2 separate regions of the Homo sapiens genome follow, and region 2 is linked to region 1. Evidence: fine-mapped expression QTL. A gene starts in region 1. The other region holds a variant in brackets. All regions are shown on one strand. Distances are from middle to middle. Region 1 holds the start of CYP1B1 (cytochrome P450 family 1 subfamily B member 1). Region 2 holds the start of CYP1B1-AS1 (CYP1B1 antisense RNA 1).

The links. PIP is the estimated chance that this variant, and not a neighbour inherited with it, causes the effect.
Region 2: its variant is fine-mapped to the expression of CYP1B1 in whole blood (TOPMed, PIP 0.99).

The regions. Positions count from the first base shown.
Region 1 is chr2:38,072,572-38,080,900 of GRCh38, reverse strand. It overlaps CYP1B1 (cytochrome P450 family 1 subfamily B member 1), which reads left to right and starts at 4,750. Exons shown (of 3, transcript NM_000104.4): 1 at 4,750-5,121; 2 at 5,512-6,555. The coding sequence starts at 5,513. RefSeq lists silencers at 3,635-3,754, 4,665-4,754, cis regulatory regions at 3,798-3,827, 4,748-4,755, an enhancer at 3,729-3,927 and a promoter at 3,394-4,769.
Region 2 is chr2:38,124,081-38,132,409 of GRCh38, reverse strand. CYP1B1-AS1 (CYP1B1 antisense RNA 1) reads right to left here and starts at 1,305. Exons shown (of 3, transcript NR_027252.1): 1 at 1,220-1,305; 2 at 796-899. All of the region lies in intron 2 of LOC107985871 (a long non-coding RNA gene), which reads left to right. The variant C/G (reference allele first, on the strand shown) is at 3,527.

The DNA of each region.
Region 1 (8,329 bases):
ACTTTCTTTTCAGACTCAGCCCACCTGCACCCAGGTGATTAAAAGCTTTATTGCTCACACAAAGCCTGTTTGGTGGTCTCTTCACACGGACGCGCATGAAATGTATAATGCTTTGTCAGCTCCAAATCATACCCTCAACTTTCCATTTTACATCTCCGAAATCTGGATGTATCTTAGAGTCGATGATGCAATTATAATTGGTAGCTTCCTTTCTTTATGTTAGTACATAAAAATAAGGGTGCATCCTACAAATGATGGCTTCTGAGATTAGATAAAATACCTTTCTATTAGCTCTGTGGTTCTCTGCCTGTGTATTGCCAGGAGGAAGGAAGTGGAGCATTTCAGGTGAGGCACAGGGTTTTGGTATCAATTCCTAAGATTCCTTTCATGGTCCAGCCCCTGGTGTGCATTATCCTACAGTTCCTCCCTCTATCGCACCCTCAGCCACTTGGTGTGTCTCCTTATTTCTGCTCCTCTTGCCTACCAGCATGTGCCTGATGACTGAATCCTGCCCACCCAAATGTCAAGAGCCTACCAGAGATGGCTTATTCTCCTCCACTCTCCTCAGTGCATGTGGGTATGTGTGTTTGGAGATGACTGGAAAAGCACAGTGGCTACCCATTAAACTGACTTAGGGGTCACACTAGAGAGGAAGACCATGAAGAAAACTGAGTTCCAGCCTGACAGCAGAAGGGCAGAGCTTTCTGGGCTACTGGCTCTAAGGGCAATGCATATATCTGCTGATTTAAAATAATAATAACAATAATGGCTTTGGGTTTCCTTAGGTTATCCTCCAACCCAAAGAAACCAGTGGGCAGACATGTATACATGGAGTGGACTGGGTCAGCTCTTTGGCTTCCTAGCATGTTCTGCCATCTCTTTTTTTCTGATGACAGAACAAGCCCTTGCCCACAGGGTAAAAACCTGATGCCAGCCTGGCCCCCTGGAGTCCTTCTAGGACCCTGGAAGAGAGCTGTTCTCTTTCTCTTTGTTTTGTTAATTTTAAGCTGCTTCCTTGCCATGCAAAGAGAGAAAGCCCAAGCAAAGACCAGCATAGGCAGAGAGCCGGTAGAGCGGCCTGGGTCCTTGTATCCTGTGAAGCATCACGGTTATCCTTCTCTGCACATGGGCCAGTGCATTCCTGTTCTGCTTAAACAAGCTTAAGTTGTTCCTTCGAGTCAATACAAGATAAGATATTTTAAACCTCTCTCTACTTTAAACTATCCCTCTAGCTTAGCTGTTCTTTTTGAAAGTTATTTGCAACAAACAATTCAAGTTTGAGATTTGGGAGGGCAGAATGCCCATATTCTGTGTTGATTGAAAGGAGATTCCTGGGCCTTAGGTCCCTGCTTTGGTTGAGAAGTTGTGATGATAATTAAAGAGCCTGCGTAGATTCTCACTAGAGGCAGGGCTCTGCCTTGAGTTGGGTCGGGGTGCCAACAGGCTGCTCTGGATTTATCCGAAGTCCTTATCAGGGTACCGGATGGGGCATTCAATGAAGTTTGCACCATAAAGCCCTAAGAACTCCAGGCTTGAAGATTCTCTGCAAAAAGTGTTACCATAGCCAGTCATTTTGGTTTGCCATAACCGATAAGGGCTTATCTTTCTGACAGCACTTACCAACCTAGTTCCTCTGATTTTTGAGTCATGTCCTAGAAAAAGAGCTGAGCCCAAGGAACTACAGCTTGGAGGATATATCTGATCTATCTGCGATGGCAGGAAAGCATGCATCTAGTTGATCTAAAAACTAGATGGCATTATTGAGGAGTTGGACAGGCGGTCTTAGGAACAACCTCGTTTTATACTTTTTAAAAATAGGAATTTACTTAAAGGCAACTTCCATCTGCTCTCATTCTGGCAGAGGTATTGTGATAAAGGCTTTCAGGAATGTCAACAGCTCAGGATTGGCATTAGCTCATAGATAATTCCCGTCTACTAAATTAAAGTCTATGAGAGATTGATGCATGCACCAGAGTCTTGAATTATTAGGCAAGGATCTTGCTAAAGCTGGACATGGGAAGGTTGCTATGAAACTCATTTCAAAGGCTGTGTAGGCCAACTCACCTCTGGGAAACCAACGCTTATTATTAAACCAATGCAACTGCTCAAAAACTAAAACTCCATCACTATCTAAGTTCCCCATCATGGTGTGTGAAATCATTTCCAGAAAACTCTTCAAAAGATACCGAATAAAAGGCATCACAGGCCGGGCACGGTGGCTCATGCCTGTAATCCCAGCACTTTGGGAGGCCCAGGCTGGTGGATCACCTGAGGTCAGGAGTTTGAGACCAGCCTGGCCAGCATGGTGAAACCCCATCTCTACTAGAAAAATACAAAAATTAGCCGGGTGTGGTGGTGCGCACCTGTAATCCCAGCTACTTGGGAGGCTGAGCCAGGAGAACCTGGCAGGCGGAGGTTGCAGTGAGCCGAGATCACGCCATTGCACTGCAGCCCAGGTGACAGAGTGAGACTCCATCTCAAAAAAAATAAATAAATAAAAATAAAAATAAAAAAAGCCATCACGAAAAGACATTTCTTTATCAGGTCAGCAAATTGATTGCTGGTTTCAATCTCTCAAGAAGTCAGATTCTTTTCAGACACTCCTTTGTGTTTCTTTACAATGTAATCAGTCATTCCAGGGTCAGCTATGAGGCACACTCCCCTGGCCTCCCTCATAAGCAATTTAATTGCAAAGGGTTAGCATACTATTTCTTCTCTGCTATTCTCAGAATTCTCAATTATGAAAACAAAAACAATAATTAAAAAGTTCTTCCAGCTGATTTTTTTTTTTTTTTTTTTTTTGAGACAGAGTCTCACTTAAACTCTGCTGCCCAGGCTGTAGTGCAGTGGTGCAATCTCTGCTCACTGCAACCTCTGCCTCCCACGTTCAACCAATTCTGCTGCCTTCCCCCCTGATCCCCGAGTAGCTGGGATTACAGGTGTGCACCACCACGTCCGGCTAACTTTTGTATTTTTAGTAGATGGGGTTTCGCCATGTTGGCCAGGCTGGTCTCGAACTCCTGACCTCAAGTGATCCGCCCGCTTAAGCCTCCCAAAGTGCTGGGATTACAGGCGTGAGCCACTGCGCCTAGCCCCACGTGCATTTTTTTTTTTAAGGGAGGCAGGAAAGAAGGCATTTGGGCCTCTTATCTGCAATTTTCTTCCGTGTAAACTTATGTGAAGGATCTGGAGTGGGACTTGGTGGCTTCAAGCCCTGGCTCCACTTCTTGATGGCTGCGCGACCTGGGTTAAGTCACGCAACCTCTCTGAACCCTAGTTTATTCATCTGTAAACAGGTCAATAATAGCACGAGATTCGCAGCGCGAGTGGAGCTCAAAGTGCAGGGTTGTCCCTGGTGAACCTATCACTTTTATATTTATCCTTTGATGAAGCCAGTACAATTCCTACCTGGTTAACCAGATACATCCCACCTCTTCCCTCGAGTTCGCCCTTCCCCCCGCCTCGTGAAGTCCTTGTTCTCTTAGCTGTCTTGAAAATCCTATGCATCAGCATGTAGGAAAGGGCGCGCCAGGCGGGGGAAGCCACCCCCGCCCAAGCGCCTCCGGCTTCCCTTATAAAGGGAGGGCCCCCTTCGCGACCGCAAGCGCGCCCAGGAAGACCACAGAGCCGCCGGTGCGCAGCGAGGTGGCGATACGCGCCCGGGCTCGGCCTGCGGGTGGTGGCCCAAGCGTCCGCCTCGCTGGCCTGGCAGGCGCGACTGTGCGTGCGCAGCCGAGGGTGGTGGCGGCCGGCACCCCACGCCAAGGGTGGTGGTGGCCGGCACCCCACCCTCGGCCGCCGCCTCCGCGTGTCAGGTGCCGTGAGAAGCGCGGGAGGAGCGGCCGCAGGCAGCGCCCAGGGATATGACTGGAGCCGACTTTCCAGAAGCGGCGCACGCAAAGCCCAGCTCCGCACGCAAAGGGGAGGCGACAGCAGAAACTTCAACCCGATAAAGTTCGCCGGAGCGCGGAGATTCGCCTCCTCCTGCCACTCTCCGCCCCGCTCGGGTCCCGCCCCGCTAGCTCCCCCAGGCCCCCCCAGTCGCCCCAGCTTGGCTCCCCGCCCTGCGCCAACGGCTTCCATCGCAGCCTGGGCGGCCCCGCGCCCACCAGCGGGCGGCGCCACCTGGAGTGGCCTCTACGCGGGAAATCTCAGGGCCAGCTGCGCCCCAGGAGCCTTTGTGTGCCCAAGCACTGTCGGGGCCCCGGGGCGGGGGAGCGGCTACTTTTAGGGATTCCTGATCTCGCCGCAAGAACTGGAAAAAATTTAGCATGCCAAAGAGCCTCCACTGAGGTGGCAATTTGTTTGCGAGAACCTAAGATAAAATTTAAACAACCAACCAGGGGCGCTGTGAGGCAAACCGCTGCCACTACACTGGCTTTCCGGGAAGCAAGCTCAAGTCGCGGAGAGGGAAGGGAGGTCGTGCGCTCGGGGCGGGGCGCGCTCCCAAGTCGAGCGCAGCGGCCGGGGCAGGTTGTACCGAGCGTGGTTCTGGGGACACCGTGCGGCCTCGATTGGAGGTGGCTGTGATGAAGCGCGGTTACCGCACAATGGAAACGTGGGCACCTCCGCTCCCATGAAAGCCTGCTGGTAGAGCTCCGAGGCCGGCCGGTGCGCCTGGACGGGAGTCCGGGTCAAAGCGGCCTGGTGTGCGGCGCGCCCCGCCCCCCGCAGGCCCCGCCCTGCCAGGTCGCGCTGCCCTCCTTCTACCCAGTCCTTAAAACCCGGAGGAGCGGGATGGCGCGCTTTGACTCTGGAGTGGGAGTGGGAGCGAGCGCTTCTGCGACTCCAGTTGTGAGAGCCGCAAGGGCATGGGAATTGACGCCACTCACCGACCCCCAGTCTCAATCTCAACGCTGTGAGGAAACCTCGACTTTGCCAGGTCCCCAAGGGCAGCGGGGCTCGGCGAGCGAGGCACCCTTCTCCGTCCCCATCCCAATCCAAGCGCTCCTGGCACTGACGACGCCAAGAGACTCGAGTGGGAGTTAAAGCTTCCAGTGAGGGCAGCAGGTGTCCAGGCCGGGCCTGCGGGTTCCTGTTGACGTCTTGCCCTAGGCAAAGGTCCCAGTTCCTTCTCGGAGCCGGCTGTCCCGCGCCACTGGAAACCGCACCTCCCCGCAGGTCAGTCTGTCTGCCGAGGCGCTGCCCGGCGACCTCTTCAGATGGATTATTACAGGTAGCGGGTGGCGTGGTAGGTACTTTAAAGGAAATCAAGCGCCACCGCCTCGATGCCCGCAGCGTTGTCCCCAGATTGCAGGAACCGTTACGCGCCTTGCGGGGAGGGGAAGGGTTTGGCGCTGGGTTACAGCGAGGTGGAAACACGCCCCTTCTCTTCTCCAAGGGAGAGTGGGTTGGGGATGGGAAGGGGCGTCTTCGGCCATTTCTCCAGAGAGTCAGCTCCGACCTCTCCACCCAACGGCACTCAGTCCCCAGAGGCTGGGGTAGGGGCGTGGGGCGCCCGCTCCTGTCTCTGCACCCCTGAGTGTCACGCCTTCTCCTCTCTGTCCCCAGCATGGGCACCAGCCTCAGCCCGAACGACCCTTGGCCGCTAAACCCGCTGTCCATCCAGCAGACCACGCTCCTGCTACTCCTGTCGGTGCTGGCCACTGTGCATGTGGGCCAGCGGCTGCTGAGGCAACGGAGGCGGCAGCTCCGGTCCGCGCCCCCGGGCCCGTTTGCGTGGCCACTGATCGGAAACGCGGCGGCGGTGGGCCAGGCGGCTCACCTCTCGTTCGCTCGCCTGGCGCGGCGCTACGGCGACGTTTTCCAGATCCGCCTGGGCAGCTGCCCCATAGTGGTGCTGAATGGCGAGCGCGCCATCCACCAGGCCCTGGTGCAGCAGGGCTCGGCCTTCGCCGACCGGCCGGCCTTCGCCTCCTTCCGTGTGGTGTCCGGCGGCCGCAGCATGGCTTTCGGCCACTACTCGGAGCACTGGAAGGTGCAGCGGCGCGCAGCCCACAGCATGATGCGCAACTTCTTCACGCGCCAGCCGCGCAGCCGCCAAGTCCTCGAGGGCCACGTGCTGAGCGAGGCGCGCGAGCTGGTGGCGCTGCTGGTGCGCGGCAGCGCGGACGGCGCCTTCCTCGACCCGAGGCCGCTGACCGTCGTGGCCGTGGCCAACGTCATGAGTGCCGTGTGTTTCGGCTGCCGCTACAGCCACGACGACCCCGAGTTCCGTGAGCTGCTCAGCCACAACGAAGAGTTCGGGCGCACGGTGGGCGCGGGCAGCCTGGTGGACGTGATGCCCTGGCTGCAGTACTTCCCCAACCCGGTGCGCACCGTTTTCCGCGAATTCGAGCAGCTCAACCGCAACTTCAGCAACTTCATCCTGGACAAGTTCTTGAGGCACTGCGAAAGCCTTCGGCCCGGGGCCGCCCCCCGCGACATGATGGACGCCTTTATCCTCTCTGCGGAAAAGAAGGCGGCCGGGGACTCGCACGGTGGTGGCGCGCGGCTGGATTTGGAGAACGTACCGGCCACTATCACTGACATCTTCGGCGCCAGCCAGGACACCCTGTCCACCGCGCTGCAGTGGCTGCTCCTCCTCTTCACCAGGTAAAGCCTCTGGGAGGCGTGGGCCAGGTCTTTTCTCCTCTGAAAAAGGCGGAGTAGAGACAGAATATGCTGAGTTTGCAAGCAGGGCCCCGGGTTTGGGGTTTCGCTCCAGGTCCCCACCCCTCAAAACCAAGATCGCGTCGGTAAAGGGACTCACAGTGAGGGCTGCGACACGCGCACGCGCCCCACCCAGCGGTGCCCCGACCCCTCCGGTCTCCTATCTTGTCTCTATCGTCCCCTCCCCTGCTTGCGAGTGAGAACACATTTGCAAAGACCCCTCCACCCCCCGGAAAAACAAGAGTTTTTAAATGCTTGGAGATGAGCCCTGATATCTCTCTCCCTGGCGCATTACAATCAGAACTGGAATAGTTCCGAAAGAAAAGGTAATGTCATAAATATGTTAAACACAGCAGCCTCTCCTAGGCTAGTCCTCGGCGTGCATCCGAGGCCGCCCAGCCCTGGCGCTAAAAGCGGGCCGCCCGTCAGGGCTTTGTTCCAGGCCAAGGAAGCCCATGGAGGCCGGGCCAGCCGACAGGTAACCCGCACAGAAACTTTCAGAAGGCGGCCACAACTAGCGGGCAGCGCTAGGTTTATAAAACCTCCGCGCTAGGAGTTTGAGAAATGCCGGGGTAGAAGACAAGAAGCAGTCACTTTTACGAAAGCAGAGTAGCATTCAGAAAGGCAGATGGGATATCCAGGAGGCGCCTGCAGACGTTTCTGGCCCCTGCGCTTGGCTCAGTTAGCGGACCCCCTGATGCCCACGTTGGTCTCTACTAAGCACGGATTCAACAGGTCCCTGGTGTCGGGTTGCCAGATTTGGCAAAAGAAAAGTAAGTTTTACACGGGAATACTCACACTAAAAGATTAGCCCTTGTTGATCTGAAATCCATATTTAACTGGGCGGCCTGTAGTATTTACTGTGGAAACACTATCCCTAGGGGCAAATGTTTCGCAAGGCAAATTTTGATTGCCGAAGAGACCAGAAATCCTGGTTTTGTGTCATTTCTTGGAGCACAAGTGAGCAGTTGGAGATGCTGAATCTGCAGGCGCCACAGAAAGGTGTTTGGAAGGCAGAGAATGACTCTTTCCTTATTAAAATCCACTGCAATCTATATTTCCTTAGATACTGTACAGCTACCTTCACAAATTAAAAGTTTCTGTATACTTAAAATGGCTTTTTAGTATTAAAATCATAGAAACACCCATGGTGGGTGAGGGAGAGGCAGAAATCGAATAAAGAAAAGTCAACCAGAGATCAGGGAAAAGGAAATCCCGGAATAGGTTCCATAGGTTTTTGTGCATCCGCAGATAGGCATTTTAACTTTTGAAACGGCCTTTGTTTTTCATTAGAACCACAATAGTTCTCCGAGTACTCCAATTAGGCGGCAAAAAGAAATAAAACAATTTGGAGGTCACTTTCAATTCAATATGCTGATACTTTTTTTTTCCTTTTTAGTGAAAAGACGTATGACAGGGCTTGGCAAATTACACGATCTGTTTTTGTATATACGTTTTATTGACGCAGTCATGCCCATTCATTTATACATTGTCGATGGCTGCGTTCACTCTACAACACAAGGCAGAGCAGAGTAGTGCAACAAAGAGGGTTTGGTCCACAAAGTCTAAAATAGATACTCTCTGGCTCTCCCCACCATACATGTTTCTATGAAAAAAGTTGGCAGACTCCTGCAATATAATGTTGAAGAAGCGATTCTAAAAATAACTCCACTTCATCACATACGTGTATACATTTTTTTTCGGAGTTGCAAACAAT
Region 2 (8,329 bases), 52 kb before region 1:
AAAAAAGACAGGACGATAATACACATTTGGTGATACAATTAAGAAACATGATATTGGAAAGTTGCTGACCAAGTGCCACCTAGCATTCCTTCTCTTGTACTAGCCACATGCCCACTCCTCATGGCTACTGCTAGCCTCATCTAAGAACTGGGGACCCAGCCTGGCAGGATAAGTGTGGCTCCATGCTTTAAGCCAGAGAATTTAGGAGACTATGATCTGTTGCTGTGTCAATCTGAAAGCTGAGGGATCTGAAGGGTACGTGGTACCCATTCTCTGACTCTCACTCCCAAAAGTCCTTTTCTCCCTGGGTCAACATACGGTTGGTGCCCAAGGCCCTTCCTAGGAATTGGAAGCCAACAGTGACACAAAGCACTTAGGAGGCACACAACCACAAATGTGTGAGGTTTGCCTTCCCATATTTTCTGGACCCATGTTCAAGCCTGGAACTCTCTAGTTCATAAAGGGTTTTACTCTTGCAGGAGTCAGCAAACTATGGCCTGTGGGTGGAGGGCCAGATGGGGCCATGCTCATTCATTTACATACTGTCTAATGGTTGCTCAAAAATCACAGAGTTGAGTAACTAAGACAGACTGGAAGGCCCACACAGGCAAAAAATGTACTATCCGGACATCCACATAAACAGTTTGCAGGCCACTGATTTAGAGTAAGACCAGTTCTCCTGGGGGCAATGGATTGTCTTTCTTTGCTTTCAGCCTGACCAATGCCCGTGGGTAGGGATGGAGAGGGAGCCCATCTCTCTAGTTGATTCTGATGAGAAGAACCAGGGTGACCCACCTGGAATGTGAGCCTCTGATCTTCCAGGCATCTGGCATGCCCATTTCTTCCACAGAGCAGGATAGAAGCTCCTCCCAGCAGGGGGTCTTGACTATTTGAGACCACTGTAAAAGAAAAGTAAGAACAAGTGATTCACGTTTGTGTTTCCTGTAAAAAGAACATGGTTGTCAGTGCTATTAACCTGGTTACCACTGACTTTGACGCAGATACAGCCGGTTCATGTTTCAGAACTTCATGAAACAGGCCTGTGCCTTCAATCAGAGGCAGCCCAAAAGACAAAATTGCCAACACTTTCTATTTGCAGTGGCCCAGGAATTATCAAATAACCTTAGTTCCTATTAAACTCCTGCCTATTTACCATTGCCTAAACCTGGAGGCAAAATCTAAATCCAAACCATCACAGGTAATCTCCAATCTCACATACTTTTCCAAAAGATTCATGTGTTAGGAAAGGATGATTGATGGCTCAAAAGTCACCAGTGCCGATTCTTGTGTTAGCAACCATAGTTGAAGTCAATGCTTAGAACTGGCGTGGGAAGATGTTCTCAAAACTGCAGCTTTGTGCCTTTGTGGTTATGTAACAGCCTCCTCCATACAGAGGATTACTACGAATGGGTGCTTCCTGCTGTTGTCTCATGTTGATGAGGCATTTTATATTCTTGAGGAATATTCTGGAGGGAGGAGGTTGGTGAAGACTGGTAAAGTAGAGAAGAGAGACATTTTAACAAAATATTCATATTTATCTGGTCTCTAACATGAAAGCTGCATATTTTGTGGTATATTAATTAAGTCATTTTTATAAGTTATAAATGATACTAGTACAGTAAGTCCTCACTTAATGTCATCGATAGGTTCTTGGAATCTGTAACTTTAAGCAAAACAACATGCAGCAGGTTCATAAATAATGTCACTTCCTTTAACGTTTTGTTATAACGTTGATGAGAAAAAAACGCTTTTGTTACATGTCATTTTGCTTAAAGCTATAGTTTCCAAGAAACTGTCGATGACATTAAGTGAGAACTTACTGTATAATAACATTATGTTAGAGTTTAGTGGGCTCCCAAAAGATCTTCTCTTACCAGGTAGACAGTTCTCTCTTTTAGAGATAAAAGAATTGAGCCTCACAGAGGCCGTATGAGCAGTCAGAGTCCCACTATGTTCCCACCTACCATTCACCACTAAATCCTTAGTCTGGCTGCAGAAAACAGAAAAGATTTATTTCCTCAAAAGTCAACTTCTTTAGACTACATTGACCCTAATAGAATTCAGAAAGCAACTCTTAGACTCAAATTTTTCTGCTTATTGCCACCACCACACTCCCCCAGTCATATGACAAGAGTCGTTTGCGGTAGGAAGCAAAACCAGAAATGCACTTGAGCAGTCTTTCTATGTCCTTCCTTGCCTCACCCCCATTGGGGGCCTGCATGATGGTGAGTGGCCACATAAACAGTCCCTACGTCTCCAGGAGTTCCCTTGGCCATGGCTGCTGGAATGACTCATCCTTCTCCATCTGTAGCCTAGGCTTTCCCCTTCTCCTTAATTTCCATGAGGGAGCAGTCTTAGATCAGAGCCTCCCCAAGGGGACAGGACCACAGCCCTCCCTAAAAGGTCCTGGATCTGGTATAAATCTAACCATGGGAGAAAACAGAATTCAGTTACAGACAACATCAAGGGCAAACTTGAAGGGGAGCAAAAATCACAATATGGGTGTGGGAACTGGACCACAGAGTTACAGTGGTCATTTCCTCCCCACCACATCTTGTGAACTTTACCTTGCCCACTGCCCCAAGGGGCAACCATGTGGCTCATGGCCCTGGCCACCAATAACTGAATTGGGAGTAGACCCACTTTAAACATGACCCACTTTAACCAATCAGACATCTTTATCTAGAACTTGGAGTTGGGACACAGAAAGCCTGAGGGTGTTTTTTTATCTGTGAGTGCTAGACTCACAAGATTCTGTGGGCTCAAGGACTGAGTTAGACAGTCATTTAAGGTCATGTGGTAACAGAGTATGCTTGACGAAGGGGGAGGATGGAGCAGAGACAAAGATAACTGAGAGAAAGGGAGGAGGAAGGGCAGCTCCAGACTCTAGCCCTTCAGTGATCCAGGTGCAATTCTTCAAACTGGGTTTCACAGTATTCCGTTATCACTGTGCAAGTAATCCCCATTTACTTAAGTTACTCTGAGTGGGTTTCTGGCCCTAGCAACTGAGTGCTCCCCCACCATAAGATGAAATGGCTAGGCTGGAGCTGGGAGGCAGAGGCAGTGAGTGAGGAAGCTAGACGGATTTTTCCAGAGAAAGTAAGTCCTAGAGTCCAAGCATATGCACGCTATCCACACGTTCCAAATTTTAGGAGACAGCCCTGTTTCAAATGTGCCAGCTTGCCCAAATTTCTGTTTAGGCAATTGTGGTATATCTGTTTATATATATAATTTTAGCATTGGGAAGGCCCTCCTAAGTAAGACACAAACCTGGAAACCACAAAGAAAAGAAAAGATTGACAGATTAGACTACCTAGCCCTAAATTTTAAATTGCCTTTGACAAAAGCCACCATCAGCAAAATTAAAAGTGAAGGGGCAGCTTGGGATCTAAGTGACAGCTGGAGAGCCCCTGCACACTACAGACTCCCTCCTGCTGCAGATCAGACTTCTGGACAAGTCCAGCCCTGGCTTTGTGGCTGTCATGACTACTGAAAATGTCGTAACTGTTGGCAGCAAGAACATGAC[C/G]TCTTGCTGTCCCAAAATGAGGAAATGAAAGGGAAAAAAGAGGAAATGGGATGAAATGAAAAATGGATGCAAACAACAGAGAGTGAGCAAGAAACATTGAGAAAGATGAAAAAAATGAGCTGTTTATCTCTCCTCTGCTTCTGGGCCCTCTCCTTTGTGCTACCCTAGTGATGTGCTCTATTGGTCCATTCTTACGTTGCCATAAAGAACTGGGTAATTTATAAAGAAAAGATGGTTAGTCAGCTCATGGTTCCTGTGGGCTGTACAGGCTTCTGCTTCTGGGGGAGGCCTCAGGAAACTTACAATCGTGGCACAAGGTGAAGGGGAAACAGGCCATTAGCAGCAGGAGAGGGGCAAAGGAGATGCTACACACTTTCAAACAAGCAGATTTCCTAAGAAATTGGGGGAATGGCGCTAAACCATTAAAAACCACCCCTGTGATCCAATCACCTCCCACCAAACCCTCCCTCCAGCACTCGGGATCACAGTTCAACATGAGATTTGGGTAGGGACACAAAGCCCCACCATACCATTCCACCCTTGGCCCCTCCCAAATCTCATATCCTCTCACATTGTAAAATATAACCATCCCTTCTCAACAGTCCCCCAAAGTCTTAACTCATTCCAGAATTAACTCAAAAGTCCAAGTCCAAAGTCTAATCGGAGACAAGGCAAGTCCCTTCCACCTATGAGCCTGTAAAATCAAAAACAAGTTAGCTACTTCCAAGATACAATGGGAGTACAGGCATTGGGTAAATACTCCATTTCCAGAAAGGAGAACTCAGCCACAACACAGGGGCTACAGGCCCCATGCAAGTCCGAAACCCAGCAGGACGGTCATTAAATCTTAAAGCTCCAAAATAATCTTGACTCTGTGTCTCACATCCAGGCCATGCTGATGGAGGGGGTGGGCTTCCAAGGCCTTGGGCAGCTCTGCAGGGTACATCCCCTGTGGCTGCTTTCATGGACTGATGTGAGTGCCTGTGGATTTTCCAGGTACACAGTGCAAGCTGGGGTCTGGAGGAGGATGACCTTCTTTTCAGAGCTCCACTAGGCAGTGCCCCAGTGGGGACTCTGTGTGGGGGCTCCAACCCCACATTTCCCCTTTGCACTGCCCTACTAGATATTCTCCATGAAGGCTCTGCCCCTGCAGGAGACTCCCGCCTGGACATCCAGGCCTTTCCATACATCCTCTGAAATCTAGGTGGAGGTTCCCAAGCCTCAACTCTCATCCTCTTTGTACTTGCAGGCTTAACACCACATGGAAGCCACCAAGGCTTGTGGCTTGCACTCTCTGGAGCAGCAGTCTGAGAAGTATCTGGGGCCCTTTTGGCCACAGCTGTAGCTGGAGCAAGTGGGATGCAGGGTGCCATGCCCCAAGGCTGCACAAAGCAGCAGGGCCCTGGGCCTGGCCCCATGAAACCATTTTTCCCTCCTAGGCCTCCAGGCCTGTGATGGGAGGGGCTGCCCCAAAGGTCTCTGGAATGCCTCATAGGCATTTTCCCCATTGTCTTGACTGCTAATATTTGGCTCCTCTTTACTTATGCAAATTTCTGTATTGGGCTTGAATTTCTCCCCAGAAAATGGGTTTTTCTTTTCTACCACATGGCTAGGCTGCAAATTTTCCTATCTATCTTTTATGCTTTGCCTCCCTTTTCAGGTCATTTCTTTGTTTATGCAGATGAGTTAGGCTTTTGGAAGCAGCCAGGCCACATCTTGAGCACTTTGATGCTTAGAAATTTCTTCTGCCAGATACCCTAAATCATCTCTCAAGGTCAAAGTTCAACAGATCCCTAGAGCAGGAGCACAATGCCACCAGTCTCTTTGCTAAAGCATAGCAAGAGTGACCTTTACTCCAGTTCTCAATAAGTTCCTCATCTCCATCTGAGACCTCATCAGCCTGGCCATCTCTGCCCATATCACTATGAGCATTTTGGTCAAAACCATTAAACAAGTCTCTAGGAAATTCCAAACATTTCCTCATCTTCCTGTCTTCTTCTGAGCTTTCCAAACTGTTCCACCCTCTGCCCATTATCCAGTTCCAAAGCTGCTTCCACATTTTCAGGTATCTTTGTAGTAATGCCTCACTTCTCTGGTACCAATTTTCTTCATTAGTCTGTTCTTGCATTGCTATAAAAACTACCTGAGACTGGGTAATTTATAAAGAAAGATGTTTAATCAGCTCACAGTTCTGTGGGCTGTAAAGGCTTCTGCTTTTGGGGAGGCCTCAGGAAACTTACAATCATGGCAGAAGGTAAAGGAGAAACAGGCACACCTTCACATGGCCAGCAGGAGAAGGGCAGCGGAAGTGCTACATGCTTTCAAACAACCAGATCGCCTGAGAACTCTATCATAAGGCAGCACTGTGGGGATGGTGCTAAACCATTAGAAATCACCCTCATGATCAAATCACCTCTCACCAAGCCCCACGTCCAACACTCAAGATTACAATTTAACACGGGATTTGGGTGGGGACCCAGAGCCAAACCATACTATGCACTAACTCATTTAAGCTGTTGTTATCTTAATCATGGGCTCACTGTAGAATGGGAGTGGTAGGAAGAAACATTAAGTGAGTGGTCATAATGGTGGCTTAGAATTCAAACCCATTCCATGTGACCCCTCACCCATGCTTGGCAAATTAAATCCATGATAATCCAAAGGGTTTCAAAATCGATTTTTTTTAGGTCTAACCGTTTCCTTCCCATTCTTATCATTTCCTCTTCCCTTAAAGCAAATTCCCTTTATTCTTACCACCCACTAGAATGGAGACTTGAAATTAGGTTCTTTCAGCTTGCCAAATGATAAACAGCTCTCTCAAATTAAGCCACATCTCATCCAGAGAGAAGGCAATAAAAATAGTGATTTATGTGGTTGAGAGTACAGTGAGACGTTTTTATAGCATCACAGATGGTTTTCCAAATTGCAGAGCAGCTTTATTTCTTTCTGCATATCTCAGTTTCTCAGTCCACAATTTGAAAATAATAAAGCTGCCCTCTTCCTACTTCTTGGGTGAATTGGTTAAATCATGAAAATCTATAAATAAAAGCACTTTGAATCCTAGAGAGAAGAGTCAAATAATAAAATAATCCCATTTTTCATCCATATGATGAAATTATATAAGGTCCCCCATATAATGGGGGACCTTATATAATGAGAAGGCTAGGCATATTGCTATGTTTGTGGGCAAATGATCTGGCCCAGAGAACACCTGACTCCTAGGAGTGTCAAGCTGGGGAAGAGGACTCAAGTATATACACAGTACCGTTATTTCAGATGTATCTTTGATAGCTCTAAAGTAACTACTGGAAACACCTATAGGGTGGCATGATAAGATAACTGAGATTTACATTTATACTTTACTACTCCCATTGGTTTTAAAAAACAAGACTGCTTGAGTTTGGTTTTCATCATGGCGGCTTCAGTCTTAGCCCAGGCTCTCCACATACTCTCTGTTCCAACTTCGACCCTAGGTGTACATGAGATCCATTCTCAGCACCTCTGGGCCCATTCCCTTCTACCCAAGCCAGGAGTGCTGGGTGCTGAGATTTAACAATCCAGATCAGAAGCGGCACCATGCAGTGTTGAGAACACAGGCCCTGGAGCAAGTCTGCTGCGTGTGAATCCCAACTCGCCTCTCTGACCTGGCATATCTCCTTATCCGTGATATGGGCATGGCACTAACATACCTACTCATAGGACTCTGGGGACAGTTAAACGAGACAGGGTCCATAAAGCACTTAGCTCACTGCCTGGTACAATAAATGGTGACTACTTTTTATAGGCAATTGTGAGAAACATGGTGAATGTGGGCAGGGTAAAATAGTTGGATTGGTGCTTCTTCTGCAGGTGGCATTCAACTCTTTTTGTGTTTGTTTGTATTTATTTTTCTTATAGCAAATTTCCTTTTTTAAACTGTGACCAAACAAATAGAATGATTGCTATGGTTTTACAATTTGCATGGCTGAATGAATATACCTTTGATAGTTTTTTTTATCATGTTTCTAATTGTTAGAAAAAAATTCTTTTTTCCTCTTCTGGGATTTCAGGGCATTACATTGGAAAATAGGTATTAAACTGATATGGGACAGAGGCCATGGCATATATCCTACAAAATCTGTATCTACACTCTTATATTATACTTACTTGCCCATATCTTTGAACTTGGGGCCAATCATAAGATCCTACATTCTAGTTACCAGAAAAAGAACATAGTAATTGAGTATGTAATTGAATATTGTTGGCTGGGAGTGGTGGCTCACGCCTGTAATCCCAGCCCTTTGGGAGGCCAAGGTGGGCGGATTACTTGAGGCCAGGAGTTTGAGACCAGCCTGACTAACATGGTAAAATCCTGTCTCTACTAAAAATTCAAAAAAATTAGTCGGGGGTGTTGGTGTGTGCCTGAAATCCCAGCTACATGGGAGGCCGAGGCAGGAGAATTGCTTGAACCTGGGAGGTGGAGATTTCAGTGAGCCAAGATCGCACGACTGCACTCCAGCCTGGGCAACAGAGCAAGACTCTGTCTCAAAAAAAAAAAAAAAAAAAAAAAAAAAGTTTATGGGTGAGTATTGAGCTAAGTGCATTATCCCATTCAATCCCCAATCTTATGAAGCAAATACTATCATTAGCCCTATTTTACAGATGTGGAAAGTGAGCCTTAGAGAAGTAAGTAATTGCCATAAGTCACACATCTGAGAAATAATGAAGTGAAAATTTGAACCAAAAGCATCTGGATCCAGAGCCTATGTTTTAGGAACTTGCTGTGGCTTTGATGCATCAGAATGTGGGAGCTGCAGGCCTGCG